Linked DNA regions of Homo sapiens: region 2 is linked to region 1. Evidence: fine-mapped expression QTL. A gene starts in region 1. The other region holds a variant in brackets. All regions are shown on one strand. Distances are between the middles of the regions.

Region 1 (11,969 bases):
AGAAAGGGCATTGCTGTGTGCTGTCAGGGTTTGGAGGCAAGGGGATAAGAGATGAATGAGTTACAAACAACTTTTATTTTTACTTTCAATTATTCCCCCTTCAACTTCCCACCCCAAACATACTAGCAAGCAAAGCAAAAACTAATCTGTACTCAAACTGCTCATGCCAAGAGTTCAAAAATCAAGAAGCTGAGAAGAAAAGGGTGGCAAGACAATGACTGATTCAAAGAACTTTCTCATTTGCTGTTTGACCACGGCAAGAAAGGTTAAGCATGAGCTCCATTTCATCTGGCAGACAGGGAGCATGATCTCTAGACATGCAACAGAATTGGTTACAATGATCATGTGTGAACAATTCTAAGCTGGCCTCCTTTGTCTAGTTCAAGTTAAATAATGTTTACTAAATGTCTACTGTGTGTATAGGACCATCTTAGGTTTCAGACAATCAGAAAAAATATCTCCAACCTCGCCCTTTTTATTACAATCATAGAAAATGAAAAACATACTGAAATATGTAGGAGTTACCTATTAAGACAAACAGTCAAGGAACAGCAATACTAAACTAATACAAGTACATGAAATTCATTGCAAAGTGCAACTTACAGAGACATTTCAAGATACTGAGAAACAACTTTAACGAGAAAAGGCCGCTCAGGCGCCTGCCCTATCACTCAGGAGCCTGCCCTGTTCCAGCAAGGAGGATGGTACAGACCTGGGGAGCTATCAACCATCTCTTCCCCAGAGCCTGGATCGCTTTTTATTCTAACCCCAGAAGCACAAGCATCCAGTCTAGTATGGACTCAGGAGCTGCGGTCAGGTCTCGATTGGAAAAGAGAAAGTCTTCCATTCTGAGACACTTGGGAGAGGCAGGCAACATTCCCTGAGGCTGAGCTTGCCTTGCTGTCACCCTGTGATTGTTGGTTATACACTACTACCATTTTAGGAATACATAAAACAAAAACTTGTTATGGTATACCAGTGACATCAGGCCCCTATGAAAGAGGCAATATAAATACCTGCATATTTTAATGATGACAGAAGAGGGAGATTGAGGCAGAGAGGCCACACCTACAGCCACAGGGAAGACAGTCCAAGAACAGGAAGGACAACTGCCCTCTTATACCAGTTCTCCAAATAGCAACTGCTTATACAACACATTCATGCAATAATAATAATGCTGCACACTTTACAAAGGGCTCTGAGGCACATTTGATTCTCTGACGAACTCTGGAAACTTGGCAGGGCAGGTTTTATTAGCTCTATCTTACAGATGGAAGAGCCACTAGCAGCAAGGTTAAATGACTTGTCCAGTGACACAGAGTTAAGGAAGAGAACTGGGACCTGAACTCAGCTTCTGGAATCCAAATGCAGGAAGCTTTCTACCACCTCACACAAACAAAAGGCTCATTTACCATAGTTCCTCTGGTAGAAATAGAAAGCACTAGTAGTACACAATGCCAATTATCTAAAGAGATGCCTCCACATTCTTAAAAAGAAAAAGATGAGACTGTCGTGGTACTCACAGTGGAAAAATACACTGCAAAGATTTCCAATGAAAAATCTTCCCCCAACTACAGGATGACAACGGGACCTAACTCAGTAACTCCTACTGGGTCTCCTGATACACTCTCACTTTCAAGGCAGATAAACTAGAAGAAGGCCTCTCTTGCTCTATTATTGTTTGTAGCAACAAAATTTGGCCTCAAGAAATTTCTAAGTCCAAATGGTAAAGGGAATATAGCACTGCAAGAACGGAGGACACTGCTGCCAGCGTCGCCTGGAACCAAAAGCTCGTGCCAACAAGGAAATGCAGAGAAATGTCGAGAAAAGCAAGCTACTGGATTCCAAAAGTTTATTAAGACATAGCTAGAATAATGTATTTTCTTAAAAACAAAAGAGTTCCATATCGTTCAAGTCAATAACAGCTTTTCTTTAGTGTCTACTACATGCAAGACACTTTTCTAAGCACTTAGCATAGATTATTCACTCAGTCCCTCCAGCAACCCTTTGAGAAAGGTACTATTATTATTCTCATTTGACAGATAAGGAAACTAAAGCACAGAGTTAAGTACCTTGCCTAAAGTCACACAGATAATATTAGGTCCAGGATTCAAATTGGGGCAGGCTGCCCAATCCAGAGTCAAAATCTTCTAGGCAAATGACGGTCCCTATCCCCCACATCTGCCAAAAAGGAAATAAAGAACTAGAAAACTAGAAAATAATGAAAGCAGAACTTCAAAGAGGTCGAAAACAGGAAAGGAAAATTACTAAAGAATAATGAAAACAATCTATTATTCTGTTACAAAATCGAATAAACTTTAGAAATGAGAAACTCCAGCCTTTGAAATCCTCTGGTTACCCCTTTAAAATGTCACCTATTAATCGTTGAGAGTCTCCACTTTTCTCTTTATTTTGGAGCCCTCAATAAGAGCAAGAACCATGTGTTTTCAGTGGTTTCTAAGTAACTACATTTTGTTAATCTGCCTCTCATTTTGGAACAAAAAATATTAAAGTATTTTTTGTAACTTTAATTATTTTTCAGACCTGTAAAAGTTTAAAATTTTGCTTTGAAGCCATTGAACATACAGAATATGAGAGAACTTAGAAGGTATTAAACAGATGAACTTTTACAGTCAACTCTCATTAATGCCATTTTATTAGCGAGCACTCTTGTTCCTAAGAATGAGTGCTTCTTTTCTCTTGAGCTATTTCAAAATGAACTAGTTTCTTTACAAACCACACAAGGACTGATGATCATTTCAGATAAGAGGTTCACAGTACAAACCATTGCACAGGAAGAGAAACCCTTGTGCAAGGTAGCCTGAGAGTCCAGCAGACACCGGCATGAAATCAACAACCAATATTGACCTCAGCAGAGCTTTCTGTAGCTACAGTCAGCTATCTAACTATGAAAACAGCAAAGGATTTGAAAAATACCTCTCTAGGTATTTGAAATCACTTACTGTTTGCATGTCGGGGTGGGGGGAAATGTGAGTAAAAATGAGGCTGGGATGAGCTTACCATCTAAAAGACACTCATTGGAGAAATGATGACTCCAAAAAATCTCTTTGATTCAGAGATTTACTTTTGGATTTATTTCCTTTACTGGAGCAGCAGCTGGCAATCTAAAACTAGAAATTCAAAGTAATGCCCAAGTCATTCTCAATCATGCCAGCCTGTTTCACTGTCATTGTAAGGTTTCAGAGCTCTATTTTTTCTCATAGCGCTCATCTCTGCCAGAAAATATATCATTGTTTATTTTTTTATTGTGTGCCTCCCCACATATAAACTCTATAAGGCAGGGACCTCAGCAGTGGGGCTCTTTGCTGTCTTCCCAGTGCCCACCGTTGGCATTCTTGTGTTTGATGAATGAATGAAACCATCGACAACTTAATAAATGTAGTTAGAACTTTAAGTTAAAGAGACCAATCATTTACTAACTACACTAGAATCTACAAGCCCCCCGTGAATGTTATCCACCCTCAAGCACCCGGGAGGGTACTATACACTGGTGCTGCAGGCAGCACCACTGGTTCAAATCTCCCCCATGGTGTGGAATCTCTGAAAAGTAGATTTGATTTTGTGAAGCAGCCAAAAGCCATTCAGAATCAAATCTGGTGAATACATGATCGTGCCCAATATATATGTTGGATGAAGGCAAACGTGTCTGCAAAGTAACAGGCCTGATTGTCTTATTTGGTTGGTAAACCGATTTTGAAGGAAATTCAAAATGGTTTGCAGTCTAGCAAAATTGCTGGCTCAGTCTCAAGACTCTAAGGTGCTTATTTCACAAGGAATAATACTGAGCTGTGGTAAAAAGAATCCAGACTAGACAGACACCAAGATACCCCCAAAGAGCTGGCTTGTGATATTAGCTTTGCCATTAAGTTGCCCTGAAGCCCGGGACATATTAGTTACCCTCTCTGGGCCTCAGTTCCCCCATCCAGGAAACAAATGAACAATGTAAACTTCAGGATGCCAGTCAATTCTAAAATGCTATAATTTTATTCTTGTGAAGATCTGGTGTATCTGTTTCAAAACCAGTCGCAACCCACTTCGCCTCAAACGATGCGTGCGTCTATAAAGCTCTAATATAATTTTTGCAGCAGATTCACTTCTTACTTGCTTAGGCAAATACTAAAATTAGTTTTCACTTCCTGAGCGCAGCAAAAGACAGTTAAGGGAGGCAACCCGGCCACGGGCGCTTGCTCGTGCCTGTACATACTTCCGACTGCGTATCAGGGAACTAACCGTTCCCTCTAAGATCTTCCCTCAACTGTTGCAAAAGCAGATAAACCTCTCGTGTATGACACAGAAACACTGGCCGAGAGCGGCCATCGAGGCTTCGCGGCCAGTGCCGGGCTGCGGCCGCTCCGCAGGGCCCACCGGGGATGCGACGGACGCCCGCTCCGTGCGGAGGGCCAAGGCGAGGACCAGCCGCGGAGCGTCGCCGGGGAGGCAGGGCGGACGCCCGGCCCACTCACCGCCCCGGGACGGGGAAGCAAAGTCCAGGCAGTGGCTGAGACGTCCGCCCCCAGCTCCACGGCCAGCCAACCCCTACCCCCGTCCCGACCTTCGCCCGCCGCCGGCCGGCCACCTTGGGCGGGGAGAACGGGAGGAAGCCGGAGGTACCTGCCTGCTGCTCCCTGGCCTCAGCCCTGCCCCGCGGGGACAGCGACGGCGCTTGGACGAAACCCCCACCCAACCCTGACGGTGCGGCAAGGCCCCGCGCGACCCGCTGGCCCAAGGAGTCCCAACTTCCTCCTCCCGATCCCCTCACCACGGGTCCCCGCAGTGCCCGGCTCCGAGCCAGGCCAGCCGTGAGCGCGCACCCACCTCGGGCTCCGGGCGCCACCGCCGTTGCCAGGCTGCTCGGCTGCCGGGCCCTGCTCCGCCCCCTCTGGGGTCCGCCCCCCACGGCCTGCCCGCCCCCGGCCACCGCCCGCTGCCCGCCTCCCCGTGCCGGTTGGCGGGACTGCATCACGTGACGGGGCAGGGGGCAGGAAGAGTGCGCCGGGTCGACCTGGGGAGCAGCTCCGAAGGGCGGGGCTCTTCGCCCGAGAGGCTGCTGGGAAGCCCATTTTGAAGGGTCCGACGCATGGAGGCAGCTGGGAATTGTAGTTCGCAATATGGTGCTGGGGATGGGCGGGGCCAAGATGCCAGGGGCCATCCCTGTAAGGGAAGTTGGACTGGGCGCCGGGCGGAGGCGGCTGGGAAGCGTAGTCCCGGGACCCTTGTCTGGGTCTCCCCATTTTTCTTCAGTAAAGGGGAAATCCAGAGGGAAAACTTCTCTATACAAGACTTTAGCGGATGCCACTAAATTGAGCTATTATTGGGTACACAGGGTTGGCTGCGTAAAGTTGAGATAGTATAAGGGAAAAAGAAATTTCACTGACTCTGGGGCAGGATCTGCAATTCACAAACTCAACTAACAGCTGGGGTGTCCCTCAGCTGTGCCAGCACCTTTCCAAGAACGCAATTGAGACTTAGTGAACGGAAACATTTCAGTCCAAAATTCCTTCTACTTGTTGAGGTTTGGGTCAGACAACTATTGATACAGTAAAAAGAAAGGGACAGGAAAAAGAGAAGAAAGGCAAACTTCAAGAAGAGAATTCATTGTGTAATCAAATAAAACAAACAATCTGGGCCGGGCGCGGTGGCTCACGCCTGTAATCCTAGCACTTTGGGAGGCCAACGCAGGCGGATCACCTGAGGTCAGGAGTTCGAGACCAGCCTGGACGACATGGTGAAACCTCGTCTCTACTAAAAATACAAAAATTATCCAGGCGTGGTGGCAGGTGTCTGTAATACCAGCTGCTCGGGAAGCTGAGGCAAGAGAATCGCTTGAACCCGGGAGGGAGAGGTTGCAGTGAGCTGAGATGGCACCACTGCACTCCAGCCTGTGTGACAAAGCGAGACTGCGTGTCAAAAAAATTAAAAAAAGAAAAGACAACCTGGCACATAGAAAAATGAGCATAATATTCTTTGTACTGCATAATACTTATACGCGAGCAGTTCGAGTAAATAGGATGACTTTATCATGACCTGTTTTTTTTCTCTTGTATGTGTTAGTTCTCCAGCATCTAAAAACAGCATTTTACCTGATACCAGTGTATATGTGTACGTGTGTTTCTACATAGTCACACACATATACACATATATTCATATATCATTTATATATGCATATATATATGCTTTATTGAAGAGTCTAGACTTCTTAGAAGAGTAACAAAGCCATCCAGAATCCAACCCAACCCACTCTTTAGCCACTTCTCCCAGTGTGCCTCTTTTTGCTCTTCACCCCAAGCTCTGGCCTAGTTCCAGGGAACTTGATGCACTGGGTTTTTTCTTTCCTCCAGCCCTTTCCACTTGGTCCTCTCTCCTGGATTTGCCAAACTCCTGGAAAGACAGCAGAATAGCAGCTGCTCCTGGGCCCCCGCACAATTAGAAGTCTCCCCCACCCAGCCCTTCTTGTTGTACTGATGTCATCATTTGCTTACACGTCTGCTCTGCCAACTCCCCTCCCCAGACTATGAACTCCTTTGAATCTCATTCACTTTTGTGCTGAATTTCAAAGCACGCTCAGTAAATTTGCATGCTAGAGAGGCTCCCTGGTGGGCTGCTGAATAACTCTGGATTCCTGGTATCTGTGAATCTTAGGGCAGAGGGATAGAGGAAAATGGGGATGGGTGGAGGGAGGGCAGCAGCTGCCTGGGATACCTTGCATATAATAGGCCTGGTTAAGTGTCCCAAGATGAGGCCAAAGCTTTTCGATGGAGCTGGGAGGAGCTGGGGGTTAGGAGGTGGGGAAGGTGCAGAGCAGGGATGGTCTCATCCTAAGGAGGTAATTCCTGAAGATTTTTCCAGGGTCCAGCCCCAGCCCAGCCCCACCTCTAGAAAGATGCAATTCAACCAGAAAGGGCCAGTAGAGAAGATTAGCCTTTGGCCTGTGAAATGGAGAGAGTAACCCCTGCCGTGCCTGTCTCACGGTGTAGGTGCAGAGATCGAATGAGGCAACAGATGAGGAAGCACTTTGAAAACTGTAAAGGTTGTACACTATGGGCTGGGCGCGGTGGCTCAGGCCTGTGATCCCAGCACCTTGGGAGGCCGAGGCGGGCGGATCACTTGAGGTCAGGAGTTCGAAACCAACCTGGCCAACATGGTGAAACCCCGTCTCTACTAAAAATACAAAAAAATTAGCCAGGCGTGGTGGTGGGCGCCTGTAATCCCAGCTAATCGGGAGGCTGAGGCAGGAGAATTACTTGAACCCGGGTGGTGAAGGTTGCAGTGAGCTGAGATTGCACCACTACACTTCAGCCTGGGTGACAGAGTGAGATTCCATCTCAAAACAAACAAACAAACAAGGTTGTACACTATGGAGGGGTTACCGCCTTGCCCTTGGTGACATCGCTGTATTCTTGACTGAGCCTGCCCTCTTCCAGGCTGGGGCTGCACTCACATTTCAGTGTGTGTGTGTGTGTGTGTGTGTGTGTGTGTGTGTGTGTAGGAATCTTCAGGCTTCCCTGCATTTTGCACACATACACCCCCCCATCATGCAGGAGGCCTGTGAGAAGATGGCTGGCCTCCCTCTCCAGGGCTCCAGGACAATAGAGAGGAGGGGGCAATAGATGCGACCTCAGGCTGCTTCTTCCACAACCCTTCTGAGTAGCACAGCCTACACCTGTTTCCGCCCCTCTCCCCCAGAGTCCTCCCGCTTTTGCTAAGGCACAGGCTGGAGGGCTGGAGGCACCTCCTACCTTCAGAGGCTTCATCCTGTTCTCTGCAGTTGGGGGAGGCAGGCTAGGCAGCACCAGGAGGAGCCTGCACTCTGGATTTGGTTGGCTTCATCCCTTACCTCCACCTCTGGCCTCTCACCTCCTAGATAAGAAGCAGGCCCGAGCGAGGAAATGGCCTGTTTCCTGCTACTTCTCCCTTGGCCTCTATGCTCTGATCTCCCCAGTCCCCACTCCTGCCTCAACTTAATCCTACCAGGTTCAATGTATTGGGCCTGAGGCAGGGGAAGGTGGAGGAAAGGGAGGGGCATTCTTACTGAGGAAAGAGAAGGCTGAAGAAAAAGAAAATTAGGAATGAAAAATTTTAAATGTAGCTGTGGGTTACCATGCTCTAGCAGAAAGCACTTGGAACTAGGAAACCTGATTCAGGTCCCAGAAATTCTATAGGCAAGCTGTTGGCCTTGGGAAAGTCACTTCACCTCTCTGATCATTAACTGCTTCCTCTGAAAAAAAGGGGTTGAATGCCACCTCCCAGGGTCGTTGTGTCCCCTTGAGGATAGATGTAAATGTGATGTATAGAGTGTCAAGGCAGCAGAATTCCCAAGTTGCCACGGTGATCACTGGGGAGAGAGATGGGAGAGGATAGGGGGTAAGCCCCTGTGCACTGACACAAAGGTTCCAGGGTTTAAATCCTAGCTCTTCCATTTGTTAGGTGTGTGACTTCGGGCAAGTACACCTCTCCAAACCTCTACTTCCTCATCTGTGAAATGGGTTTTATTCATTAACTCCTTCATAAGCTTGTTGTGAAGCACATGAATGCCAGGTCTAACTTCTGAATCTAGGAGAACTGCAAAGCAGCTCTGCCTACCTCCTCCTCCCCAACCCCAGTCTGTATTTAAAAAGCAGCCTCAGCAGGATAGTGCAGCCCCTTTGGAAAATGGTTTGGCAGTGAATTACAAAGGTAAATGTACATATGGCCGAGCAATACTATTCCTAGGTATTTATCCAAGATATATGGAAACATACGTTCACAAAAAGACGTGTATTCAAATATTCACAGCAGCCTTTCAAAAATAATAGTCAAAAGCTGGGCGCGGTGGTTCACGCCTGTAATCCCAGCACTTTGGGAGGCCGAGGTGGGTGGATCACAAGGTCAAGAGATCGAGACCATCCTGGCCAACATGGTGAAACCCCGTCTCTACTAAAAATACAAAAAATAGCCAGCCTTGGTGGCGTGCACCTGTAATCCCAGCTACTCAGGAAGCTGAGGCAGGAGAATCGCTTGAACCCGGGAGGCGGAGGTTGCACTGAGCCGAGATCGTGCCACTGCACTCCAGCCTGGCGACAGAGTGAGACTCCTCTCAAAATAATAATAATAATAATAAAAAATAGTAAAAGAATGTAAGCATCTCAAATCCCCACTGATTAAACCCATAGCTAAGCCAATGGTGATATATGCACCCAATGGAATATTACTCAGCAATAAAAAGGAAGAACTATTGATATATGCTACAACTTGAATGAATCTCAAAAATATCATGCTAAATGAAATAAACTGTACACAAAATATTATATACTGCATGATGCCATTTATATTACATTTTGGAAAAGGCAAAACAATAATGATAGAAAGCAGATTTATGGTTGACTGGGGCCAGAGGTCAGCCTAGAGGTGGGTGGGGGATTGACTCCAAAGAGGCAAGAGGAAAGTTTTGGGGGTGATTGATAGAAATGTTCTGTGTCTTGATTGTTGACACGATCATGAAACCATATACAATTGCCCCCAAATCATTATACTATAAACATGAGATGGGCGAATTTCACTGCAGATAAGTTATACTTCGGTAAAGCTGAGTTTGTTTTTTTTGTTTGTTTGTTTTGAGACAGAGTTTTACTCTGCCTTCCAGGTTGGAGTGCAGTGGCACAATCTTGGCTCACTGCAACCTTTGCCTTCCAGGTTCAAGTGAGTCTCCTGCCTCAGCTTCCCAAGTAGCTGGGATTACAGGTGTGCACCATCACGCCCAGCTAATTTTTGTATTTTTAGTAGAGACGGGGTTTCACCATGTTGGCCAGGCTGGTCTTGAACTCCTGACCTCAGGTGATCCACCTGCCACAGCTTCCCAAAGTGCTGGGATTACAGGCGTGAGCCATCGTGCCCGGCCCAATAAAGCTGAGATTTAATCCCAGCACTTTGGGAGGCCGAGGCAAGCAGATCACGAGGTCAGGAGTTCAAGACCAGCCTAACCAACGTGGTGAAACCCCGTCTCTACTAAAAATACAAAAATTAGCCAGGTGTGGTGGCACGTGCCTGTAGTCCCAGCTACTCAGGAGACTGAGTCAGGAGAATCGCTTGAACCCGGAAGGCAGAGGTTGCAGTGAGCCAAGATCACTGCACTGCACTCCAGCCTGGGTGACAAAGCAAGACTCTGTCTCAAAAAAAAAAAAAAAAAAAAAAAAAAAGCTGAGATTTAAGCATGGGAAGAAGACAAGAAGACATAGCCTCAGTTAAGATTCCTAAGGCTGCCCAGAATTGTCTATCTCTTTTTGGTTGGTTGGTGGGTTGGTTGTTTTCTAAGAGGACTGGGGTCTTGAAGGGGAGAGAGTGGTGATGCTTGCCGTGAAAATAACAAGGATGTGCTACCCAGTCTGTTCACCATCACAATCAAGAAATAGAACATTTCTATCATTCCCGAAGCAGGAGAAGACAGAGCCCAGCCTAATGGGGGCAGGACAGAGAGAGCTTACCTGGATGCAGGAGACCTGGGATCTACATCCCAGACAGAGAGAGCATTACCCTTGTGGGCCCCAGGGATCAGAAGCTTCCCCCAGCTTCTCTCTGGGAGCTGCCAGTGATCTGCAGGCACATGTGCAGTGGGGCTCCAGGAGACCGTGAAAGCCAACCTGTACACTCTGCTCCTGGGCAGACGAGACTGCTATTGCTTCTCACTGGTATTTTGCTTCCACTTTCTCACAGAGCTCAATGTTAAGTTGGAGCCTCCTTGAGGAGGCCCCGCTGGTCAGCAGGTTCTATTTTGCCAGGTGCTAGATGGAAGTTTGAGCCAAGTAATGGGACATGAAAACACATACAGAGAGAAACCCAGGTTCTTTGTCTCAGGGCTTCTTGGACACCGGGGCCAGCACAAAGGGCTTATGGTCATGACATCACAATGTTTCCAAGTGCCAGTCCTGTTTGCTTCCTTCATCACTAGGCACATATAGGGTATTCACCGAGGACTTTGAAGTCTAGTCCACAGGCAACACCATGACAAAATTGCCCCAGTCAGATCACAAATAAAACTAAACCCAACTCACAAGATCCTCTCCTTCTACCCCCAATTACAAAGACTTAAATAAGATAAAAATAAAAGAAACCTCAGTTGTTACACTAAATAACTTTTAAGAAAGTAAGCCCTATGAGGAAATGTTTCACGATACAGTCAAGTGTGTTTTACTCAAAACAGGCTTTTTAAAAAGAGCTTTATCTTTTATTTGAAGGGCCTGATTCATGTTGAGGTGTGTAGTATGCTACTTCTCAAACACAGATTTGTAGACCCAAGATTAAAACCAAGAGAGAATATATGAGAAGGGAAAAAATAAAAGATTAAAAAAACCTGAGGTCGGGTTCAGCGGCTCATGCCTGTAATCCCAACACTTTAGGAGACCAAGGCAGGTGGATCAGTTGAGGTCCCACTTGAGGTTTGAGACCAGTCTGGCCAACATGGTGAAACCTCGTCTCCACTAAAAATACAAAAATTAGCCAGGTGTGGTGGCAGGTGCCTGTAATCCCAGCTACTTGGGAGGCTGAGGCAGGAGAATCGCTTGAACCCAGGAGGTAGAGGCTGCCGTGAGCCGAGATTGCACCACCGCACTCCAGCCTGGGTGACAGAGTGAGACTGCCTCAAAAAACAAAAACAAAAACAAAACTGAATGTCAGCAAATATTTGCTGAACCTGAACGAAATTGTGTTATTTAAGATTAATTAAAATGAATAAAATAGGAATAAACTTAATCAAGGAGGCAAAAGACTTTTACAATGAAAACTGCAAAATATTGCTAAAATAAATTAGACACAAATAAATGGAAAGACAGCTGTGTTCAGGGATTAGAAGACTCAATATTGTTAACATGTAAATACATTCCAAAGTGATCCACAAATTCAATGTAGTCGCTATCAAAATCTCAACAGCAGAGATATTTTATTTTTAGACTAGAAAAATACATCATAAAATTCACATG
Region 2 (16,924 bases), 65 kb after region 1:
GGCATTTTGCTAACTGCTGTATCCTAGGCCAATAAATGTTGATCACATTTATAGCTGCCATGGTAGGGTGGGGACCCCTGCTATCTATCTGTGGAGGCTCTGGGAGCCCCTGACACAAACTTTCTGAAGCAGAGCCTCCCCAACCCCTTTTCCATTCCCTATACCTGACAGATGGCCCAGGAACCCATTAGAAATGGAAGGTCACTGCAGCAGTATGTGAATGTGCGTGTGGGAGAAGGGCAGGATCAGAGCCCTGGGGGTGTGGCAGCCCCCAAGTGATTCTAATCCAGATCCTAGGGTTGTTTCCCTGTCCCATTGAAATAGCTGCTTTAAGGGGCCTGACTCAGGGAAATCAGTCTCTTGAATTAAGTGGTGATTTTGGAGTCATTTAGACCAGGCCTTCAATTGGGATCCTGCTCTTAGAGTTGGATGAATTATTTAACTGATTTTCAGATCTCCTCTTTCTCAATGCTTTCAGAAGCACAGTAACTGCTTACTCTGAAATGAATTCTCACCCCACTTCCACATATGCACCCCTTGCCCACCCCTTTGGGAACACTGGCCTTAACTGCTTACCTTCAAATGGACTCATCTGTTGGGAGATATATGCATTCTGCCGTTCAGGGGTCATTGCCATAAGACCTGATCTCTGTTCCTCTTGCTAAACAGAAGATGAAAAAGACAAATTAGATTACAGCTACCAATTAATAATTAGCCTTAGGATCGCTGCGTGGGGACCTAGGACTTGGCTTTGGTGCAGCAGAAAGCATGAATAAACACACCAGCATACACTCGCATGCATGCCCCACCCTCTCGAGCAAAATTCCACAGGTATAAATAAAGTAAGATTCTGCACCTGGGTTAAAAACACAACTGCAACAGCATAGAATGGGGCAGGAGAGACAGAACTTAATAGCAAGAGCACACAGAAAAAAGTTTTAGGCATTTTGGATGTCCATCTGCTCAGGATGGGTCAGCAGTGAGATGCGGTCACCAAAAGAACAAATGTAACATTAGGCTGCATTAATAGAAGCAGAGTATGTAGAAGGAGGGAGGTGACAGTCCTATGCTAACTCTGCCTTGGCCAGACTATACCCACAGGAGTCTGGGCATGCCAGTCTCAGGGAGACCCAGACAGACTGGCTGCATTCAGAGGATGGTAAGTAATGAGAGTGGGGATTGGACTTCAAACTACCCAGACAAAGAATGGCTGAGCAAGCCAAGGATGCTGTGGCTGGGGCAGAGCAGACTGTGGGCTATGTAGTGGTGGATACCTAGCCTCTGCAGGGCTGTCATAGGGAAAGGACATTGAGAAGAGGACTGAGGCTTGTTCCTGGTGGTCCTGGCATGAACGGCCAGATGATCACATGGTCAGGTGGACACAGTCTCCAACACTGGGAGTAGCCAAACACTTACTGCCAACCTCCCGCCCTTCTCCTGACTAGTTGCAGCATAGGCAATTGGGAGGAGCTTCCTGTCTCCATCTGAAAGCTGGCTGGGTGGGCAGGGGGAGGAGCGAGCCAAGTTTCAAGGCCGCAGTTTCAGCACTCAGTCTGGGATCGGCTCAAGGAGCAAAGGGGAAGAACATAGCCAGGAGGGAATAACATGAAGGCCCCCAGACCCAGAAAAGGCATGACTTGCTCTGAGACCCTCAGCCAGTTGGTGTCAGGTTGTGACTCGGATCCAGGTCTGACTCCCAGTCCAGTGCTTGAAGCCTCACCCCACACAGTGAGGGGAGCCCGGCCATCTCTGCTCAACTGCTGCCATCTCTCTCCCCTTCTCAACCACCAAGGCAGCTCTGTCTGGGAGCACAAGCTCCAAGTCCACTTTCTGGTCTGTGTCCCCCCGAAGATGCCAGAGGACTTGCCTCTACAACACGGGCTGCCCGTGCAGTGCCTGCTTTTCCAGCAAAGGGCTTCTGGGAACCCTTCTCTGCACTCAGTGGGGCTGGTGGGAGTGGGGCGGGGTAGCGACCCAGTGCTTGGGACTGTGCCCGGCTCTCAGGCCTGGCAGCAGTTCCTGGCCTTGGTTCCTGCCAAGGCAGAGAGGACAAACACATGGCACCGGGAAGACTACACCAGAAGCGATTCCACCAGACTGGGGTTTGCTTTTCTATCCCGCCCTTAGCCTGCTTCCTGTCCTGGTCCCTGCCTCCCCCTCCACTGGAGCTGCCGTGTGGGCAGTGAGGGGCTGTTTCTCAGCTGCCCTATGGAGCTGCCCTCTCCCTGCCAAAGCATTGGCAAGGCGGCAAGGGGTGGGGGTGGGGATGGGGGGTGGGATCTGCCTTCTCAAGCTCTCATTATACTGAGCACGTCTCACCCATTATTTTATGTCATCTAGCAACACCCCATGTGGACACTGAGGAGCATGGGGGTCACATGACCACTGCCCAAGGCCACACCATCCGGATCTGCCTGAGATGGTCAGGGTTGGCAGCCATTTCTGAAGGCAGTCCTTTCGCTTTGGCTCTTCTTGTACCAGTCTCAGGACATCAGGGCAGAAGATCTACAGTCCCCAGCTTACTGATGTGACAGCAGAGGCTCAGAGAGGTTAAATGACTTGCCCAAGGTGACACGGCTAAGAAGTACAGTATCTCCTAACTGCAGACCAGGTGCTTCCGCTGCTTCTGGGGACAGATTCCTGCGTGGCTGGCTAGGTCTAAACGGTCCTTAACTCCATCCCCACCGGTTGCTGCATTAGTTTCATCAAATAACACAGTTGTACAGAGGTAGGGGTTCAGGGGCAGGGGCAGATGGAGGCTGGAGAGTGTGACTAAGGAAACAGCAGGGGAAGTGCGGTAAAGTCCGAAGGGAGGGACGGAAAGAGAAAGCCAAGCCCAGGGGCGTGCCAGACAAAAGGAAAGGCCACGCCGGGGCAGGGCAGGCTTCAGCGGGTGCTGGGGCGTCTTCATCCCGGGAAGCACACATTCCAGAGGACCCCGGAGTCTAATGGAAAAGCTGGCCAGCCTATCACTATGGAAACTGCCAAGGCCACACAGCGCTGCTGACACCCAGCCTGGGTGCCGGTGGCCAGCTCTGCAGGATCTTCAAGTCTGGGGTGCCACCAGCAAGCGACGGTCCTCCATGGTCTCTTCACCTTACGGCAGTGTCCAGAGGCACCGCCAGTCCTCTGCTCCTATGCTGGTCCTGCTGTCCCTGGCCAAAGGAGCCAGAGCATTCTCTCCAGGCCTCCCGAGGAGGCTGCTTCCTTTGTTTTGCAGATGGAGGCTCCCATCCTTTGTTCTGAATCAATGTGCTCCAAAGATAAGCCCCAAGAAAACAGTTGTTGCCTTTTGACACTGACAATTAGAATCGTTGGAAAATGGAGAAAACAGGAAATGACAAATGGTTTCAGTGACCAGGAGGAAACCGTGCCTGAAAGTTGCTGCTTAGTGACTGGGACACTCGCTTTCTGCTCTCTTATGAAGGACAGCCTAGGCCGTGTGGCCTTTTATAAACAAAGCTATGAAGGGGTCGTCAAATTTTCTAGGGCTGCAACTGTGGCACTACGTCCTGTTGTGCCAGGTGACACTGACAAGCAGCACTGAGTTCTATGCAAGCCCAGGTGTGCTTCTCTCATGGTGACCCCCAGAGAACTAAGGCCCAGCTCTTCCTCTGTCACACCCCTCCCAGCCCCCACTGTCAGACAAGGGACCACATTCACAGACAGTCTCAGCCAAGATGGCAACCTTGGAAGTCCTGGGGATGCCTTTCTAGAAGCTTTAGGCTGACGCCAGGGAGCTGTAAAGCCCCCACCTGTCCCTGGGGGTTGTGTGCTGGGCAGGAGAGAGGGGAAAGAGCCCAAACTCCACCACTGCCTGCTGGCACAACTGAGCCCACGCCAGGCACTGCACCAGCTTCACTCACCAGCTACCACATGCTAATGTCTCCTGTTTACCCAGGTGCAATCACCTGAGTGCTGCTTTCTCACCACTGCATGGGAAGAA[T/C]GATCTCATTACCAATTCAACCACTTAAGCAGGCAAAAGGACTCCAACGGGGGAAAGGCAGAGGACAAACGATTCGGGGACTGAGACAGATGCCCACAAAATGTTCCTGGATTTTAGCCGGATTCGGGCTGAAGTTCCTTGCCCTATGAGCCCTTGGAGGAGAGCATCCTGACTCAGACAAGAATTCAAATGACAAGACTTCTGGGGGATGGCAGTGAATGGATCCAAAGCCTTGTTTTATAAAGAATGTGGAGGAAGGGAGGAAGGAAGGGAGGGAAGGGGAGACTGAGAGGGAGAGAGAATAAAGAAGAGGAAGAGAAGGAAGAGGAGGAGGAGGAAGGGGAGGGGAGAGGAAAAAGGGGAGGGTAGAGGAGGAGGGAGAAGGGGAAGGGAGGACAGAAGAGGGGAGGGAGCGGGGAGATTATCTACCCCTCCATGCTAGGGAACTCCTGTCTCCTTTTCCAGCAGACACTGCTCCATGAGTGCCCCCACAGAGAGCCAGCCTGCCACACAGCAGAAGGTGCTCAGCTATCTGTCCCAAAGGTTGAGCACTAGTGTATTCCACAAGGAAAAAAACCTTCTTTTGTACTGTTTGGAAGCCAGAATTAGAAACAACTCGTTCACCCTTCTGACTTTCCCTTTGCAATGACAGGAAGATAGTATACTGCATGGGACCACCACACATTCAAGATCTGAGTTGTGGGGACCCCCACCCCCACATGGGTGGAGCCCCCTGAGACCCGTGGGCTCTGACTGGCCATGGCCCATAGATAGTGACAACATACACACTGCTATCTGAAGCCTAGTTGGAGGACGGATGGATGCTTTTAGGAAAAAATTCCCTTTAGTCGTCCCTCAGAAACTACAACGGCTTCCTAAAATGAATGGCAGGCAAGTTTTGATTGTTTCCTAAGTTCCCCCTAACTCTCAGAGCCTGTGACTCAGCTTCTCCAGAATGCCTGCAGGGAGGCAGGACCACTGGGAGTAATGAGCACGAATTGGGCCACTTCTCCCAGTGGACTGTTAACGCCGAGATCTGGGGTGGAACCCACTGAACACCTGCCCTTTTGCGTTGCCCAGAATGCAGCCAGAGGGATACGGGCCACAGTAACTCTGGGGCCCCTGAACCTACCTTCCCAAGACCCTGACGGGAAGGTATTGCTTACATGACAGTCCAGTCAGTCCCTCTGTCACTCAGTTAACAAACATGGTCATGGGTCTACTATGGGCCAGGCTCTGTTCCGGGCATGGGGATAACACCGTGTGTCTCTACTCTTATGGACACAAGTAAATCAATCAAAGCAGATAATGTTCTAATGACCACCCAGTAGGGTGAAGGGATGGAGGGTGGGCAGGTGCTGGCAGAAACCTAAGGTCAAGTCATGGGACCCCAATGGGGAACTGGAAACTGCCACACCATTTTCTATGTTAGGGGTCTTTCCTTGCCCTTCTAGAGACCTCACCCATGGTAATGATGCTGCCCTCAGGTTTGAACTGGTCTGAAGCTGTCACTGGGGGCTTCACAAAATGAATGCCACTGAAAGCAAACGGCAGAGATCTGTATATGAAATTCTTTTTACCCTTTGTTTTCTGTCTTCCCACATGATCTATGACTGCTGCAAACTCTATTCTGACTCCTCCTCAGTCTTGGCCGGTCTGGGAAGAACTTGGTTTAGATGCTGGGAATGATCCCGGGCAAAGGAAACAAATATATTTCCAGCTTGCTTTTCTTCTTCCCCTGTGGTGCCTGCATCCTCTGTCTCGCACTGACTCACAGGCTGGACTGACAAAGTGGCTGTGTTGACAGGGAGGATTTAGTGGATGCCAGGCCTGACCCTCAAAGGCCCTCAGGTGGGGCCAATTTCCAAGGTTCTTAGAGAAGATTTGGGGCCACAAATCTGCTCTGCCACTTCACTGCTGGGTGAAAGCTGTTGGCTTGAGAAGAGAGAGAATAGGTGAGGGACAATAATTCTCAAGGCAAGCTAGCTGATATCCTTTCATCTGTGGCTTCCAAAGACAGGGAAAGGCAAGGCAGACCAGGGTGGAAACAGCGACATCCTGAGGGGACGACGTCCGTTTTGCTAATTCTGTTTCCCTGGCAGCTTTGTGCTGGACAAGATTTCTCTGGTTTCAGCTGAAGAGTGAACAGCTGAGGAGCTCTGTGACTCTGAGAGAGAGAGAAATCAATAGCCCTTGAAAGGAAAGCACTGCTTGTTCTTCCAGGCCAGGGCAGGCAGGATAAAGAGAACAAGGCTGTACATACCAAAGCCGAATTTCCATTAAAGGCCAGAATCCTGGGAGGCCCTTTCAGCTTAATGACCATCTTCTGATCACTATCACTTAGAAAATGTTCATGTCTCCAGTTTTCTCTGCAGATAGTGCAGACATCCTGTGCACATTGATATTTTATGCACCAGATGCAATTCTCTGCAAAGGTCCCCTCTGGCTGGTGTCCATCCGCTTGCTCTCATGACCACTGATGCGACTCTGGGGGCAAGTCAAGCCATTCCTTCTAGACTCTAGAATCTAGAGGATGATCCCAACTCACAGGCCTCTTGGACAAGCTTGCTTTGGATTCCTTCTGCCTGTACTACCCAGACTGCCAGTCCTCCAGCAGGGCAATCCAACTTCCTGCCTCTAGGGTGTGGGAGTCCTGGGCGGGGTTTGGAATCCACAGCAGATGGCTGGCAGGAGAGGCAGTTCCCGAGCACCCACTAGGTGCCAAGCAGGCAGGTATCAGGTGCAGGGCTTCGGAGGTGCAGAAGCACAGCCCCTGTCCCCCTCAGGTTCCCAGTCTGGCCTCAGGGACAGACAGGCAGGTAGGTATGGAAACGGGGTACTGGAAGGCATACAGCTGAGGGAGAGAGCAGCTGCACCCTGGTCAATCCCCCACTCATTTCCCTGGAGGTGGGGCTGAGGCACCTGGAGCACTCTGCTTGCTTGGGTTGTCCCTTTGCCAAAGAATGCCGGGCAGAAAGTAGAGAACAAGCAGGCCCAGGAAGCACTAGAAGTCCCTCATGGGTGGACAGAGCTTTACCTTCGGAGCTGTCACCTCCTGTGTTCCTCCCAACAACCCTGTGAGGCAGGCGGGCAGGCTGAGCAGGGGACTGTGCCCCGTTGACAGATGAGGAAAGCGAGGCTCAGGGGGAAGTGACTTACCTGTGGCGTCGCAGCTAGGCAGTAGTGGAGCGGGCACCTGCCTCCAGGCCTTCGGATCCCAGCTGCCCCAGGGCGCTGCCTCTGAGGTGCTGTACGAGGAGGTGACTCGGGCCAGCTCATGAGCAAAGGAGCTGCCGGGCAGGAAGGACTCACTCCCCAGGGCCTGGCAGGACGGGGGCTGTCGCCCGAGGCTGACCTGGGGGTGCCTGGCTTCCCCAAGCTTGCAGGCTTTGTCTACATGAGTCTACAACAACCGATTGAACAATCCATCAGCTGCTTGGCCACAAAATGGTTCTGACTGATCTTGTCACTGCCCTGAGTGTCTAGCTGGGTCATCTGGGTGTTGTGGTTATACCCACCAACTGCTTTGGTGGAACGAAACCAAACAGCTTTGTGATCTTAGCTTGTCTTGGGTCATAGACTTCTTTGAGAACCAGTTATAAGCTATGGTTTCTCTCCACAGAAAAAGCACTTATGGTGTCTCCCCCTTTCCAGCCCACCAACATTTTACATCTAATTTGGGGGGGTTTTCTGGACCACTTAATACCCATCCATGGATCTCATGTGAAGACTCCCCTGGCTTGAGAAATCACTGTCTTGTTGAAAATGGGAACAAAGCTAAGTCAGATAGCTGGTTCATCAGCAATGACTTTGACCAAGCCTGATCCCACCCTACCCCACCCCACCCCAGTGACCACCCCCCACAATGGAGCACACAACTCTAAACTGGTTTGTAGGTATGTGTGTGTGAACACGCTGAGGAATCTGCAAAACCAAATGGTGAGTGCAAAACCAAACAGTCACGAGTAAATCTCACAACAACCACGTCCTGAGCTGCAGCCCTTGTTGAACTATACCCCACTAGGGCCCCAAGATTTTAGGACTTGTGTGTGGGTGGGACCTCCCCTTTCTATCATGCTTTAGAAGACAGGGATTTCACCAGAATTGAACATATTGAACATATGACCCATTTTTTTCAGCCAAAGGCAATTAAAATAACTTCATACTTGATATCCATGTCAGCAAAAGCTGCAAAACGCAAATGGGTGGCTGCTAAGAGCCCTGGTACCCTGACGAGCACACCAAGTGCTTAGCAACAGTGGTGTCCAAAGGACCAGCTGGAAGCCTGCCTTGATGAGAAGTTGCTCTTCTTTCTACATGAAGGAACACCTCTACTCTCCTGCTTTTAATACCTGAGCTGTGAGTGATCATCTATGTCCATTAGCAAACATCCCAGTGGAGAAGGAAACACTCATACCCGAAATCTAAGCTACATAGTTGGAATCACTTCAACTTATTGCAATAAACACTTACTAAGCACCTATTGTGGGCAAGTCTTTGCAATGGATAATAGTTCAGTAGATATTTTGATGTAATATTTGAAATAACAATAAAAATTGCCACCACTGAATTTATTGAGCATTTGCTGTGCTTTAGGCACTAACCCAGGTTCTTTAAATATTTGGTCTTATTCGATCTGTATAAATAGCCATCTATGAGAAAGGGACTATTATTGCCCTTATTTTACAAATGAGGCCAATGAGGCCCAGAGAGGTTAACTAAGTTGCCCAAAATCATACAGCCCACTAGTGGCAGAGCAGGATGCAAACCCAGGCTTGCCTCGTTCCCAAGCCCACATGTCGTTTGCATTGGTGTGGAGGTGTGCATGTGTTTAGTCATTAGCATGTTATATGATAAGCAAGTTTTGAAACATAGAAACTTAAAATGTGCCATTAAGAAAAGTACAGGCAAGGTTTTCCAAGGGGAGGTGTGGACCTCCGGACAAATTTTTAAGAACAAATTATAAATACTTAAAAATGGGAATAAGAAGACAACCTAACTACCTGAACAGTTTTAGAGATGACTCATGCCCACCCTCTAAAACCCAAACAAAAACAACAAAGTCAAGAAAACCCATGAAATCTTAGCAAGCGATTTCTATGTACTTGTGAAAAGGATTTCTTTACCATTCTAATGGGATTTATGCCAACCATAGAGGGCTCAGTGCCCCTCCCATGGGGTGGTTAGTGAGTACAGAGCTGAGCTCACCGGCCATCTGCAGCTTCATGTTATCAAGCTCCAGTTTGTCCTTGGAGCAAGGTTATCTGGGACATGAGCAGAGGCATTGCTTTCTACAATGGACAGTTCTTTCTGCCTGCATACCTAGCTCCTTGATAACTTTAAATACCATTTTATAGCCACACTGGAGTTTTGAAGACCTCAATATGCAAATATTACTCAGGTTCTGATTACTTGTCTGCTCCATGATAACACACTCTAAAAGCAATGAATGGGGCTTATTTGTAGAGAACTGAAGCATTTTAAGCTTTTGCTCAGGAATCCCTGGTAGCTTCCTGTGACTTGCAAGATATTAGTGATGGGTCAAGAAACAGGACCCCCCATCAGCATAACATACGCAGTGCCTCAGTAGTCCATCAGGCAGAAAAAACTGCAGATGGCACATGGAAATGACCAGCGGCGGAAGATACCCCGACAGTGTGGGCAGTTCTATTTCAGCAGCAATCAAGAGGGGGCCTGGAGCCACTCAATCAAGTGGAGCAGGATGGGAGCAAGCACTGTGCAGACCAATGCAATCCCCAGTTAACACAAAAAATAAATAAAAGAGATGAGATTCAGTCTCTTGACTGTGACTGACTGGGAGCTTTATAGCTGATGCTTGTGTCTTTTCTCCATTTTATTTAATTAGGAAAAGAAACTGCTTATCACACACTCTAAGTGTGAGGTACAACCTCCACAGGAAAGGTTGTTAGGAACATTTCAACTTCTAGAAGTTTCTAAACATAAGGTAAATCCATCTTTGTCCTTGGGATCACTGCACATCTCAGAAAGGCAAATAAATCAGTAATTGGTGGGCATAATTACTAGCTCATGGACTGACAAGGTCTACACTATTTCGAATCTCACAGAAGTAAGCCATGGGACAGATAGAGTCTGATAGTGGTGCCCCGTTTCCTGGAGGTCACACTTACTCATCCCCCTGGACCCTGGGCTTCTCATGATTGTCAGAGAGTTTGCTGGAACCAGGTCAGCCCAGTTTCCCTTCCCCTGAAAAATCCTCCAATGGCTCGCACCAAGACTAGAGATGCAAGTGCAAGCACATCCACCCTCTCAGCAGCCAGGTTTTGCGTTCCATAATGTCACGTACCCCCAGTCATACCAATCTCCTTGGAGCTCTCCAGACAGGCTGCCATGTGTGGTCGGCCCTCTGTGCTTGTGCTCCTTGGTTTGCCAAGCCTGGAATGCCCTTTCTCCATGATTGTACTCTGGGAATTCTGTGTGTCTTTCGAGATGAAGCTCCTCCACCCTGGAAATTCTGCCTCTCTTTCCAGGTCCAGCTCCTGTGGCTGAATACCCTTGGCTGACTGAACATTCTTGCTGGGCCAAGTCTTAATCATCTCTAAATCCCTCTGGTGCCCCGACAGTATCTAGCCCAGGCAAAGGGCTCAGCAAATACTTGCAAAATTCAATAAACTTTACTATGTTACTAGCTTGGCATGATGTTCTAGGCACTTGGGAGATTATAATCTGGTGAGCATTGTGCTAGTCTTTTTTTTGGGATAAACACCAATGATAAACTGAGCCTTTACTCTCATTTTAGCACATCTACTCATCTCTTTTCAATGCTGGTGGGTTTATAAAACCCATCAGTAGAACAGAGAGTGATCATAATCATATGGTGAAAATAACATCAGCTAACATATTTACTGAACATGCTTTAGTGTGCTGGGCACTGAACTCTGTGCACATGTGAATTTGAGATAGATTGTTCCTAGCTAATAAGATGAGGAAGTGGAGATGGGCTTACTCAAGTCACACAATAGCAAGATGGGGTACAGACAGAAACCAAGCTAGAAACCAAGCAACCCCTGGGTTTGGAAATGCATGGGCTCCTCCTCTGCACATGGCGAGGAGCAGTCAGGTGCTCCTCCTTCTTTCATACTGAAATAACTCTGCACTTTTGGCTATTCTGTGACACTCTGTGCTATTCTGTAGCTCAAATGGCTCTGGTGCAAGGAGCTCAGATTATGACTAACCCCCATAGATATTCAGCTGCTTTGCAAGAAGTGGATGAATGCTCTGGCTTTATAAATTATTGACGAGATTGGATATTGGCCCAATCTCCACTCTGGTGATTCGGAAGGAGGCATATGCACATTTGCAAGGTTATAGTAGTGCACTCTAATTCCACTGGCTTCTGAGAGCTTGTAGGTTTCTTGACTTAATCATTCTGGAATTAAGGTAATGGATCCTCAACACCTTTTCTTTCCCTGGCCTTTACTAACCATGTAACAGAAATGAGCAGAGAAAACCCAAGAAAGCGAACTGGAGACTTGATGAGTGTGTCAAAGATGCTCAGAGTCCAAGGTCCTCTGTGGCTCACTGACTTCAGAAGCCAACCTCCGTTGTTCAAGTCACTTGTGAGGTTACTATGCTAGAGCACTAAATATTATCCAGATAGCCCAAAGAGGTGAAGGCAGACATGTGGAAGAACCTGGATTTTTGGGCAAGTTGATGAATGCCTCCTGCCCCATATCAAAGAGAGGTGATAGGAGACAACTTTGTGAATTTGAAATAATGCACCGGGGAAACAGGAAAACGTAATGTAAGTCACGCTTCTTGGCTTTTTTCTTGCCATTACCCTACTTGGCCAAGTGCAAATGGGATTTCAATATATCATAAGTATGCATCTATTAATAACAATGCAAGAAAGCTGTACAACTGAAGTCTGAGATTTTGTAAGAAACAGAATCTCTGTAAGCATCACCATCCAACAGAACTTCCTGAGTTGATGCTGAATCATCCCAGAAAGAATAGAATGCTCTAGAGCTGTGCTGTTCAATATGGTAGCCACTGGCCACATGAAGTGTGTAGCACTTGAAATGTGGCTAGTAAAAATGAAGAACTGAATTCTTGTTTTTTAAATTTTTTATTAATTTAAATAGTTACATGTGACTGCTGGCTACAGCAGTGGACAGCACAGCTCTTTGGCATGGTGGCTAAGAGTCCAGGCTCTGGAAAAAGAGAGTCTAGACTTGAATTATGGGTTTGCCACTTCCATGCTTTGTAATTGTGGGAGAGTTACTTAACGTTTCTGTGCCTTAATTTTCTCATCTGCAAAAGGGATTAATAATTGTATATTATTCATAGAGTGGTAAAGGTTAAGAGGACTAATAGAATTAGCACGTATGCAGTGCCTGGCATGTTGTATGCACTCCAGGAAGGTTAGCAGCAGCATTAATTAACAATAATACCTCCACCATATATCGAGCCCCTTTCAATGGTCCAGGCACTGAATTTTACACAGATTAGCCTAAAACTGGACATGCTGTTCTAGGTGTGGTCTGGCCAACATGGCTCAGCAGGACCTGTGTTTTGGTAAAGTAAATTAATAATAATAATAATTGATGATGATGATGATATTATAAATATTTACTGAGAACTTACTCAGTGTAAGGCACTGACCCTTTCCTAGGGTCATTTCAATTAATGAATCCTCAGGACAATCCTATGAAGGAGGTACTATTATAATCCCATTGTAAAGATAAGGAAACTGAGGCACAAAAAGGTTAAGCGACCTGCCCATGATCACCCATTAGTTAAGTGCCAGAGCCTAGACTAGAACCTAGGTATTGTCTGATTTCAAAGCCTGTGCCAAGCTTTGTGTGATCAAAGTGCCCAAGTGAAACTTTTGTTATTGCAGTAAGTAGACTAACAGCAAGAATATTTTGTAAGGCCACTGAGGTTCTACTGTGCAATGGCCGCAGAGCTGGCTGCTGTGAGACCCAGGTGTCCTCTTCTTTTTATAATAACTGTACCTTGAAATGAGGAGAACTCCAAGTTGGGGGACCTCTGTTATGATACGTGTGGTATGGTGGGTGGAGGGGGTAGATAAATCTCACTAAAGAAATTCTGGCTGGGCGCAGTGGCTCATACCTGTAATCCCAGCATTTTGGGAGGCTGAGGTGGGTGGATCACCTGAAGACAGGAGTTCAAGACCAGCCTGGCTGACATGGTGAAACCCCGTCTCTACTAAAAATACAAAAAGTTAGCCGGGCATGGTGGTGCGTGCCTGTAGTCCCAGCTACTTGGGAGGCTGAGGCACGAGAATCACTTGAACCCAGGAGGTGGAGTTTGCAATGAGCCAAGATCACGCCACTGCACTCCAGCCTGGGCGACAAAGTGAGACTCCATCTCAAAAAAAAAAAAAAAAAAGAAAAAAAAGAAAAAAATTTTTTAAAAAAGAAATTCTACAGAAAACTCTAGGGTAGCACCAATCCCACCCATTTGGTGGATCTGTTCTGTAAATTTGCATTTTGTAAAAGTTTTCTTGGAGCAGGGTATCCCCTAAGCAAGACCTGGAAAAATTTAGGCTTTCCTGGAGTTTTTCCTCCACAAACGTATATAATTTAACTTTAACATTTCAAAATATGTTTAGGGCTGACTGAAATTGACTGGGTCCAAAATCAAATTCACTTCATCATGTAAATTCTCAGATTTGAAATTTAATTAGAGAATTAAGTTCAACTGATAAATTGCTACTTTGACAAGGGGAAAAATAACCCAATAACAAAATGGTAGAATCCATAATGTATAAAGAAATGAAGGAATTACTATCCCCTGGGCAGTTACCTCACTGTGGCACATTCCTGTGGATATCCCATAGTGCTTGGCATAGAGTGAATCTGCAGTATACTTCCCACTTCTGAGGTTGAGGCTGTGGGGCATTTTCACAGTGACCAAGGCTGTGCCTGTTGTCAGCAATGCTGGGTAATGAGGTTGGTGGGCCACTGGGCATCATGCTACTTGGGGGAGCATCAGGGACGGGGTAAAAGAGGAAGGGCATCAAGGCTCTCCAGAGTCTAGAGTTTTAGTAGCCAACAACGGCCTGTGGCAATCGTTGCCCTGACAGTTTCTGGAAGGTTTCTATTTTCTCATGATGATGACGATAATGATGATGACAATAGCTACCATGTATTGAACACATACAATGTGCCAGGCACTGAGTGAAACGCTGTAAATGTTTACTAAGTGAAACATTCAATACCCATGGCAAGCCTGAAAGATGGGTACCATTATGATCCCCACTTAACAGGTGGGGAAAATAAGGTTCAGAAAAGCAAAGTAACTTGCTCAAAGTCACACCATATGTAACTGGCAGAGCTGGAAGCTGAACCTGGAGTTGACTTACATGAAAATCCAGGCTCTTAACCGCAAATACTACAAATGCTTCAATATGAAGCAATATTCAAAACATAACCCTCACCCCAACCCCCACCTGCCTTCCCAGCCTCAAATTCTCTCAGTATCTCCCTGATGGCACCTTGGGCTTCCAAGGGAGCCATCCAACTAACCGTCATGTTCGGGCAACCGAAGAAGGGAGTGGCAGGATTTCCTTTGGAGACTTCTGGAATTAGACAGCAGTTTAATGCAAGCATCTAAATTCTCTTCCTCCCAGAGTCTCATTAAAACTACAGTAAGAGTTTGTGTTTTGTTTTGTTTTTAAAGACAAAATCCCACCAGGATAGAGAGAATAGGAGAGGAGATAACAGCATCATAATTTATGAAACTAAAATGCAGATAGACCAGGATTAACTGACTACACAGCACCAAGGAAGCTGAATCACAAGACAGCAGAGGAGAAAACTGGAAAGGATCGTGGTCTATACGGCAGAATCTTCCCAAGCCTCAGGAGGAGGAGCTCTAGATGTTCCCAGATCTGGGAGGTAAAGTGGAATGGGGGGACATGGTCAGCGTAATGGGGTTGGGCTGGAAGCTGGTTAAGGAGCAGGCAGATCTCTGAATCCCCTCTCTGACTCTGTGTCCCCAGGCATCTGCCTGTCCCCCACCCTGGAAGAGGTCTGGCTTGACCCTTTGTCTGGTGAATTTCCTGCTCTGCTTTCCTGGTCCTGCTGGCCGGATCAGTGGAGGCCACTCACTTCACCCCACAGGGATGTTCTGTGTTGCCCTACACCTGGGAACTGGAGGTACTGGAGGCAGGCTGTGGTGAGCTTGAAAGCAAAACACAGAGGGCAGTCCAATCTCTTTGGCCATATTTCTTCTGCATATCCAATACCATGTCCACAACTCTGCTAGTGTCCTGATGGTGGTGGGCTCTACACATTCCCGGGAAGCTGAAGGCAGATAATGACCAGGACAGGTCAACCTCTCTTCTTCTGAAAGCCTTCATCTACTAATGGCCTGGGACTCTTCCCTTAAATGCTTAGATTGTGTCTTCCACTAAGGTTTTTTGCTGTTGCTGTTGTTTGTTTGTTTGTTTGTTTGTTTGTTTTGAGACGGAATCTCACTCTGTCGCCCAGGCTGGAGTGTAGTGGCACAATCTCAGCTCACCACAACCTTCACCTCCTAGGTTGAAGGGATTCTCCTGCCTCAGCCTCCTGAGTAGCTAGGATTACAGGCACATGCCACCATGCCTGGCTAATTTTTGTATTTTTAGTAGAGACAGGATTTCGCCATGTTGGCCAGGCTGGTCTTGAACTCCTGACCTCAGGTGATCTGCCTACCTTGGTCTCCCAAAGTGCTGGGATTACAGGTGTGAGCCACCACACCCGGCCAAGGTTTTTGTTTGTTTGTTTGTTTGTTTGTTTTGTATTGAGGCAGGGTATCACTCTGGTCACCCAGGCTGGAGTGCAGTAGTGCAATCACGGCTCACTGAAACCTCCACCTCCCTGGCGGGCTCAGGTGATCCTGCCACCTCAGCTTCCCAGGTAGCTGGGACTACAGGCTTGTACCACCACTCCCAGCTAATTTTTGCGTTTTTAGTAGAGACAGGGTTTCCCCATGTTGCCCAGGTTGGTCTCAAACTCTGGGCTCAAGCGATCTGCCTGCCTCAGCCTCCCAAAGTGCTGGGATTACAGGTGTAAGCCACCGTACCCGGCCCCGCCACTAAGGTTTTGAAAATGAAGCAATTACAAGTTTAAGTCTATTAATAAGTGATGAAGCTATGTAGAAAAGCAGAATAATTATCTTGGATCAGGAAGGTCACATGAGGATCTACTTGGGGGTTGTCAATATTCTATTTCTTGACCTGATCAGTGTTGACAGCAGGTTTTAATTTTTTACTTCTTTTTGTTTGTTTGTTTTTGAGACGGAGTCTTGCTCTGTCTCCCAGGCTGGAGTGCAGTGGTATGATCTCGGCTCACTGCAACCTCCGCCTCCTGGGTTCAAGCTGTTCTCCTGCCTCAGCCTCCCCAGTAGCTGGGATTACAGGCAGGCACCACCACGACCAGCTAATTTTTGTATTTTTAGTAGAGACTGGGTTTCACCATCTTGGCCAGGCTGGTCTCGAACTTCTGATCTCGTGATCCGCCCTCCTTGGCCTCCCAAAGTGCTGGGATTACAGGCTTGAGCCACCGTGCCCGGCCCATTTTTTACTTCCTTATTAAACTGTACATATAGGCCTTGCACACTTTTCTGCATCAATGTTATATTCCACAATAAAGGGAAAAGGTATATACACAACTTGATACCAGTAATGTGAAACATATATTTCTACATAGAAAAAAAAATGACTGAAATACTGCACTCCAATGTGTTCACACAGTAGTTGTTTCTGGATTATTTATATATTAAATGTTTATATATTGTATTATGCCATGAGGTTTGTGTTTTCTCTCCACTTTTCTGCATTTTCCAAGTTTACTACAAAGAGCACATATTACTCTTATAATCAGAAAGTCATAAAATATATTTAAAAAGACAAAATTGAAACTAATAAGGATCAACACAAAACAGATGAGCCATCTGTGGAAATCCGCACAGAATACTACCTAAAGAGAT

Alleles and levels. Alleles are on the strand shown, and positions count from the first base shown. SD is a standard deviation of normalised expression in the study named.
With allele C in place of T in region 2, the expression in breast of the gene that starts at base 4,878 in region 1 is lower (small effect, 0.17 SD a copy in GTEx).

What was found. PIP is the estimated chance that this variant, and not a neighbour inherited with it, causes the effect.
Region 2: its variant is the best candidate, but not a certain one, in a credible set for the expression of MTM1 in breast (GTEx, PIP 0.67).

The regions. Positions count from the first base shown.
Region 1 is chrX:150,561,530-150,573,498 of GRCh38, reverse strand. MTM1 (myotubularin 1) reads right to left here and starts at 4,878. Exons shown (of 15, transcript NM_000252.3): 1 at 4,837-4,878. RefSeq lists a silencer at 4,397-5,076 and enhancers at 6,361-7,282, 7,283-8,205.
Region 2 is chrX:150,493,699-150,510,622 of GRCh38, reverse strand. It overlaps MAMLD1 (mastermind like domain containing 1), which reads right to left. Exons shown (of 8, transcript NM_005491.5): 6 at 7,106-7,349; 7 at 577-661. The coding sequence ends at 621. It overlaps LOC124905223 (a long non-coding RNA gene), which reads right to left. Exons shown (of 2, transcript XR_007068346.1): 2 at 11,209-16,924. Among named protein-coding and RNA genes, the nearest start is that of MTM1, 66 kb to the left of the region's middle. The variant T/C (reference allele first, on the strand shown) is at 3,947.